Linked DNA regions of Homo sapiens. The protein of the gene in region 1 interacts with the protein of each later gene in a pairwise test. Each region holds a gene or a part of one and is shown on either strand. Other genes may lie near its edges. The genes, in order: ZNF84 and WDR4.

Region 1 (4,423 bases):
CCTCTAAACCTTTTTTCACAATAGTGCTGCCTTAAGGGCAGCACAGAGAGATAGATTTGAACTAAACTCCTGTCACTTTGTTGGTCAACTCGCAATTAAGCTTTTCTTTTCTCAAACGCCTGGTGCCATAGTATTGGCTTCTGTGCACATCGGGCAATGAGGTCTTTTGCGTAGCAGTATTTGGATATCCGGTTTCCTCACGCTATTTATTGAAGCGACTGTCCTTTCCCCATCGTGTATTCTTGACACAAGATTAGTTGACTTGCCTAAGATTAGTTGACTGTATATGCATGGGGTTATTTCTGGTTTTTCTACGCTGTTCCACATTGGTCCATGCGTCTGTTTTTATGCTAGTACTTCACTGGTGAGTTCTACCTCTGGGAATAAATATAAGAATTCTCTAATCACTGGATGTTTGAAGCAATTCACTAAGCAACTCATTATGATGCTTTCTGGCAAAGGATCTCTGAATTTGTCTTCAAATTGTGGATAAAATTGGGTCAAATTTGGCCCATGTTGTCCTGGAGAATCATTTGTGTCACAAATTATCAAATTTATTAGTATAGAGCGGATTTTCATTCAATTTCCTATGTGTCTATGGTTATTTCTCTTTTTTCATCTCTCTCCTCCATCTCCCCGGCCCCATCTTGCTGTCATAAGCATCGTGACTTACCTATAATTCTCCCTACGACTCCAGTTATGGATCAACTTTACTTTTTTCTGTTAATTCTTACCTTCTTTCCATAAATATATTTAAATTTTTTCTGGTTTCCTCAACTGAAGTCAAACCAATTGAGTATTGGTGGGCCGGGCGCGGTGGCTCACGCCTGTAATCCTAGCACTTTGGGAGGCCAAGGCGGGCGGATTGCCTGAGCTCAGGAGTTCGCGACCAGCCTGGGCAACACGGTGACTCCCCGTCTCTACTAAAATACAAAAAAATTAGCCGGGCGTGGCGGCGGGCGCCTGTAGTCCCAGCTACTCGGGAGGCTGAGGCAGAAGAATGGCGTCAACCCGGGAGGCGGAGTTTGCAGTGAGCCGAGATCACGCCACTGCACTCCAGCCTGGGTGACAGAGCGAGACGCCGTCTCAAGAAAATATATATATATATTGGTGGATTCGGTTTCCCTTTATGTTTCTCAGAAAACCGTGTGAGCCCGTTTGGAGTCACTCCGTCTCCAAGCGACAGGCACTTCCGGACGCGGGGCACTGTGGGAAGTTGAGTTCGCGGGGCTCCTTCCTTCGCGCATGCGCACATGCACTCTTGGTAATGCTTGCAGGTGGCCCGTTCTTCCTCTTTGTCCTTCGCTGCCACGTGAGAGGGGAGTGTACGCGTGTGCGCGCGTGCGAGTGTGCGCGTGTGCAGTCCCCGACTCGTCCCGGCCCGTTCGGAGCCGCCCGGGAGCGCACAAAGGCCGACGGTTTGGGCGCGTGCGCGGGACACGGGGGACGGGCGGTGTCACGTGATCGCGAGGCCGCGGGCGCGCGGGCGCGACTCGGCGGCGGCGTCTTTTGTGAGTTCAGTGAGTTTATTGCGGGCCCGGCGCTGGGGGCTCCGGGAATGGCGGGGGAGGCGCGCGGGAGTGGCCGCGGGGAGCTTCGGCTTCAAGGCCCTGGGCGTCCGCGCGCGGATGCGGGTCTGGGGCGGGTTGGGGCTGGGCCGGGTCGTGAAGATGCCGTGGGCCGCGGAGCTGCGCGGATTCTGGGCTGTGGGGCGGGCACGGCCTTTCCGGAGGCGCCGCTCCTGGGCGTCCTTTCAGGCGGGCGTGGAGGCGCCAGCCTCGGGCGCGTTTAGCCTCGGGCGCGTTTAGCCTCGACCTCGGGCCAGCCCGCTTGCCGCGCCGTGGCCCTAAGGAGCGGCTGCCCTGCTGGACCGCATCCACCAGCAGCCTGGCTCTGCCGCTATCGAAGGAGGCTTTTAAAGCGCTGGGGTTACAGGTGTGAGCCACCATTCCTGGCCGTGTATTTTTTAATGGTTATATTTATTGACTGTTTTAAATTTTTTAAGTGACTTTTGCTTTTGGTATGGTGTAGCGAAATCTCCCCTCAAATTATACATATATTCATTCACCTGTGGTTTTTTTTTGTAGACATTCTTAGGGTTTCCATTATTTTAAAATTTAACCCACTGAAAGTAGTTGTATGAAATAGCTACGTTTATTTTCTTTCAAATATTCTTGTATTCATTAAATAATTTAATTTTACTGATGGCTTTGAAATGCTACATTTATTGCATGCTGACTCTTGCATATTTAGACAGTTTGCTTTTTTTCATCTGTATAACTTCTCTGGAGCCAGTGTCAAATGTTATAATGATTATAATTTGTATGTATTACAGTGGGCCTGTTCACACTCATTATTTTGTATTTCCAAAAGCATCCAGGCCCGGTGTGGTAGGGCATGCCTGTAGCCCCAGCTACTCTGTAGGTTGAGGTAGGAGGATCACTTGAGCCCAGGAGTTCAGGGCTGCAGTGAGCTATGGTTATGCCATTGCACTTCAGCCTGGACAACACAGTAAGACCCTGTCAAAAAAAAAAAAAAAGTGTCCGAATTGTTCTTGAACCTTTTTTCTTACACATAAACTTTAGAATTTTGAGATTCTGATTGGAGTCGATGAGTTATATAAATCATTTGAGGTCAAATTATCTTCACAATCTGAAGTCTTCCTATCCCAGAATAAAATCGAATTATAAATTTCTTTAATTCTATTTTTATAGTTCTCATTGGTGTTTTTAGTATGCTTCATATGGGTCTTGATATTCCTACATATTTTATGTATTTTGTCAATTATGAGTCGGATTTTATTTTTTTGTTATTTTATGTGAGTTGTTTATATCTTACAGAAATAAGGTTATTGACCTGGAAAGATGTTCTTCACATAATGGGAAAAAAACAAAAACAGCTTTTAAATATGACCATATGCTTCCATTGTATGAAAAATATCACAATAGTTTCCATCATCCTAAGAATGGTTACCTGTGGTGAGATCATAGATAATAGTTCTTATTTAGCTTGTGTATGTTTTTTATATTTTGCCATCATATATTACTTTTATAATAATAATTATAGCTAGTATATGTTTCGTATGACTGTGTGCCAGCTTTTGTTCTAAGATTTATGTATTATCACAATTTAAGGTATAAAGGAGTCATTTCTTGTATAACTGGGAGAAACTGCTGTGTGTTTCTGAGTTGGCACTGAAGTTTGAACCACAAAAAGGCATGAAAAAGAAAGTGCTGCTTGTTAGTGTGATACAGTTGAGGCAGGGCGTCCTTCATTTATATTTTTGTGGGAATTAGTGACTGAATGTGTGCATGGGAATAGGAGCTGACTCCAGGATTTATGTTGTGTGTGTTTGTGCATGTAGATATGCACAAATGACAATATGACTTTAGTATTCATGCTTTGAACATAGCAGGATAGAGAATTAACATTTGAATTTTGCTACTTACTAAATGTGCAATCACAGGCACATTTTACAATCACTCATTGTCCCAGTTTTCTCTCTGTAAAATGGAGATTATGTTAAACGCCTTATAGGGTTGTGCATGAGTTAAATTTAAAATGCTTAGTATATTGTCTCACATACAGAAAGCACTGGAATGTTAGCTGTAACTGTTATTACAAGGCCCCAGTCGCTTTCCTTTTAACACCTCATTTGTTTCTTAGACTCCCATTGTGAGGTCCACTTTATCTTCACCATTTTAGCAAGTACAGAAATTGAGGCTTTGAAGGCAAGAAAGGAGGGGGGAAAAACAGTAACCACAATAAACATTAAATGTATTCAATTTGTCAGTTAAAAGACACACTGTTGGTTTGGATTTTTTTTTTTTTTTTGAGATGGAGTTTCCCTTTTGTTGCACCAGGCTGGAGTACAATGGCACGGGCTGCAACATCCACCTCCCAGGTTCAAGCAACTCTTCTGCCTCAGCCTCCCAAGTAGCTGAGCTTACAGGTGCATGCCACCACGCCTGGTTTATTTTTGTATTTTTAGTAGAGATGGGGTTTCATCATGTTGGTCAGGCTGGTTGAACTCCTGACCTCAGGTGATCCATCTGCCTTGGCCTCCCAAAGTGCTGGAATTACAGGCGTAAGCCATCGCTCCTGGCCAATTTGGATTTTTTTTTTTTTAAACACCAATAAATTTGAGCTCTGAGCTGCTTATAAGGGACAAAGATAATGATGCTAAGATTTTTAGTGTAGTTGACCAGATGATAACATACCACGTAAATACCAAAAGAATGCTGAAGCCAGGTGTGGTGTTGTATGCCTATAATCCTAGCACTCTGGGAGGCTGAGGTGGGAGAATTGCTTGAGCCCAGGAGTTTGAGACTATCCTGGGCAGCATAGCGAGATCCTGTCTCTACAAAGAAAAAAAATACAAAAACAGTTAGCTGGGCATGGAGGCACACAAACCTGTAGTTCC
Region 2 (3,807 bases), on another chromosome or scaffold:
ATTATGGCCACACTTTTCTTCTTCTCTCAGGTCGCGTGGCTGTGTGTTAATTTGAAGAGCAGGAACAGGAGGCTGTGAATGAAGCCCAATCAGAGAAGAAACATAGAAGCGGCCAGAAGGTCCATCAGCCATCCTGCCACACCACACAAAGGACCAACACAGACAACACAGGGAAGGACAGCGAAGAGGAAGGTGGTGGTGTGCGGGCAACAATTCCGCAAGAGGACAGAATCAGACCCTGTGAGGAATCCAAGGCCCTCACTTTGGCAAAATCACTAACAATCCTTCTAACACATTCCTTAGAGAAAACACGTCTCTCATCACTAAACTGTAAGGCTTCCAGGACCCAATTGCTGGGACACAGAAGCTGTACCCAACAAGCAAAAATGCACTGTGGTAACCCGGGTGCGGGCGCTCGAGCCTGTGGTCCCAGCTACTTGGGAGGCCAAGGAGGCAGATCGCTTGAGCCCAGGAGTTTGAAACCAGCCTGAAAAATGTAGCAACACCCCATCTTAAAAAAAAAGAAAGAAAGAAAAAAAGGAAAGAAAAGGAAAAAAAATGCAGCCCGTAATGGGATGGACTGAGACCCCTCCAAGAGTCAGAGAAGCCCCCGTCTACTGTTTCTACCTGAGATCCTGATCCCCGATACCATCGTAGATGCAGCAGCCGCCCTCAGAAGGGAGCCTTCCACACACCCGTGCTAGTTCATCCCACAGGCGAACACACACGCACCTACGCACACCCCACACGCAGTCCTGAGTGAGCGGCCGCAGGCGGGGAGCGAGCCGCAGGCAGCTCTAAGATCTAGTGGACAGCCACAGCCAGCCAGGGGCCAGCGATCCACAGGGGCCAGGTCCAGGAGGCGCCCACCCCACCCTCCCTGCAGGCTCAAGAATCCAGAGGTGAGTGACGCTGGGCAGAACACTTACCCCAGAGGAGGACAGAAGCAGCCCGGGCTGAGTTGGCACCACGGAGATACGGCTCACAAACCTGTGAGGGCGAGAGAGAGCGGCAGAGTCAGCGAGCCCAGCGCCCGCAGGGACCGGGAGGCCTGGGGAGGCCGCCTGTTCATCTAAGGAAGAGAAGCCTCTGCCCTAAACCCCCTGATCCAATAAAAACAGCCAACATGGGAAGTAGCTGTTAACCCTAACCTGGTTAGGGTTAACCAGGTGGAGGCCCCTGGACGCAGTCGGGGAGGTGAGTGAGGTCATTCCTGGGTCCCCAACAGCACAGCAACCTCTAACCCAGGCCGCTCCTCAGCCATGCCTGCCAGAGACCCAAGCGCCTCTGTGCCCCTCTGCAGCCCCCTCTGCAGCAGCTCTGCTCAGCGGCACCTCTACAGGCCCCCCAGCACCCACCCTGGCCCAAGGCACCTGCACTGTGATGAAAGGAGCCTTGGGGGAGACTCAAAGACACGGGGGAGACTCAAAGACACAGCACACAGGGAGGAGGGTGGAGGGAGGAGGGCAGCCAAGCCCACAGGTTCCTATCAGGGTCCTGACGGCCCCTCAGCAACAACTCTGAGTGACCTGGCCAGACAGCTGTCTCTGCTGAGCCCGGCCCAGTCCTCCTGTGAGGGGTTGGCCTGCAAGCACAGGACTCAAAGTCACAGGGACCCTCCCATCAGAACAGCCATGAAGAATAACCCAAGCAGCCCAGCTCGCCTGGAAACCCATCTTGGCTCGGGCACCTACAAGGGTGACAAGGCCCCTTTTCTTCCCACTCTAACACAGTGGCCTCAAGCAATCCCTCATGCACGGGGTTCCCGGGGACCCTGGAATGGGGTGGCCCGTGAGCCTCACTCCATCTCCACCAGTCATGGCCTCTGCTACCTTGGGCTAGCCATCGCGTGAGCCGGGCCCGGTCCCGCAGCCACCGCCCTGCACGGCACCACAGCACCAACAGCAGCCCACAGCCCAGGACAGATAGGGCACAGGACGCCCCGTGCAGAGGGCACGAGTGGCCTCACAGTTCTCAACGGTTTGAAAGGCCGGGAAACCAGTTTCCAGGGGTCTGAAACAAAATCTCAAAACATAATTCGTCCAATCACTGCAGTTATCTACTGAGCACCTACTCATGCCAGGCACCACGCTGAGGGCTGCACACACCAACAGGCCCAACAGACCCACAGAACCACTCAGACGCAGCGGGAGACGGCCAGTGAACCAACTGATACTGCAATGTCAGCAAAGGGCACAGAACAGCACATCCAGCAGAAACACACCTCCAGCCACACACAGGGGCCACGGGGCTTTGTTTTCAATTTGCCAGCCACTATGTTGAAAAGTAAACGGGCAGGCCGGGCACGGTGGCTCACGCCTGTAATCCCAGCACTGTGGGAGGCCGAGGCGGGCGAATCATGAGGTCAGGAGATCAAGACCAGCCTGGCCAACATAGTGAACCCTCGTCTCTACTAAAAATACAAAAAAAAATTAGCCGGGCGTGGTGGCAGGGGCCTGTAGTCCCAGCTACTTGGGAGGCTGAGGCAGGAGAATCGCTTGAACCTGGAAGGCAGAGGTTGCAGTGAGCCAAGATCACGCCACTGCACTCCAGCCTGGGCGACACAGCTAAGAAAGAGAAAAGAAAGGAAGGGAGGGGAAGGGTGGGGTGGGGAGGGGGGAAGGAAGGGAGGGAGGGAGGGAGCAGTTGAAGTTAATTTTAATACTATGTTTTTACTCAATACTTCTAAGTGATGAAGCATTTCCCTAGAAGGGTGAGAAGCGTGTTCCCGTCAGCAGAAACCTCCCTCACGTGCCTGGCGAGGCAAGGGAGCTGCAGAGACCCCAGCGAGAGATGGTGAAGGGGAGGGGCCGGGGGGCTGCAGGCCAGAGAACTCCAGAGCTGGATCACTAGCGAACTAAATGCAAGTCAGAAGAAGCTATCCTGAGGCACACACCAGTGACTGGCCTTCTTAAACAGGAAATGTTTGGATCAAAACCAGGAAAACACAGGCAACCTCGGCACTGAATTTCCTCCCTCCAATTTCTTCCACTGCCTCAAATAATATATTTTAAAACATTTCAGCCAATTACACTAAGCGTTTTTCCTTTGTGTAAATTCTAATGAGCTTTTTGTGTGAGACAGGAGCGGGCATTCAGAAACACCTCCACATGGGTCCTGGCAGAGTGTGCTGCCACGAGAGACGCCGCCACCTGGCTGCAGAGGCCGCTTAATTCTTGGACAGCTGAAATCACTAAAGTTCATCCTCGCCCCCAACACCCCCACCACCCACCAGCGAACAACTCCCGGGCATGGTGCAGGGGTCTCCACACTGAGACAGGGGTTTCCCGGAAACAAGCCCTTCCTGTTCGGTCAGGCCCAATGCCAAGTTACTGGCACAGACTCCGGGTAACAGCGCAGAGTGAACCCCACCCTTTCAGGGCTTCTGCAGGCAGCACCACGGCGCCTGCAGTGACCAAACACCAAGCACGGGGGCTGCTGTCACCCGCGTGGGGCCTCGCCAGCTACAACGGCACCTGCTGAGCCGCAAGCTGACGCTGTTTTCAAACAGACCTTCTTTCTGCTGGAGGGGCAGGAAGGGGCACTCACTCTGTGTGCCCCAAGCAGAAGGACTCGATGCTATGGGGCGCCGCGGCCCAGCTGACTCGGATCTTCTCGTCCCGGTCGGCAGTGAGGATGAAGCGGTCATCAGGACTCACAGCCTGCATCACCAGGGGCCAGAAAAGAAAAAGCCGCTCACCTGAGTCTTCCCGAATCAAGTCCCTCATGGAAGAAGGCAGGGAAGCTGCAGCCTGGCCGCCAAGAGGATGAGGCCTTCGAGGACAGACCAGCGTGGCTCCTCCCCTC

The links.
Region 2: the proteins of ZNF84 (region 1) and WDR4 interact in a two-hybrid assay, tested with the Homo sapiens proteins (one large-scale study listed by BioGRID and IntAct).

The regions. Positions count from the first base shown.
Region 1 is NC_000012.12:133,036,035-133,040,457, forward strand, and holds the start of ZNF84 (zinc finger protein 84), read left to right. Parts: upstream 1-1,474; 5' UTR 1,475-1,511; exon of another isoform or gene 1,512-2,978; intron 2,979-4,423. UniProt on the Homo sapiens protein: May be involved in transcriptional regulation.
Region 2 is NC_000021.9:42,858,733-42,862,539, forward strand, and holds part of WDR4 (tRNA (guanine-N(7)-)-methyltransferase non-catalytic subunit WDR4), read right to left. Parts: intron 3,663-3,807; coding exon 3,550-3,662; intron 991-3,549; coding exon 930-990; intron 1-929. UniProt on the Homo sapiens protein: Non-catalytic component of the METTL1-WDR4 methyltransferase complex required for the formation of N(7)-methylguanine in a subset of RNA species, such as tRNAs, mRNAs and microRNAs (miRNAs).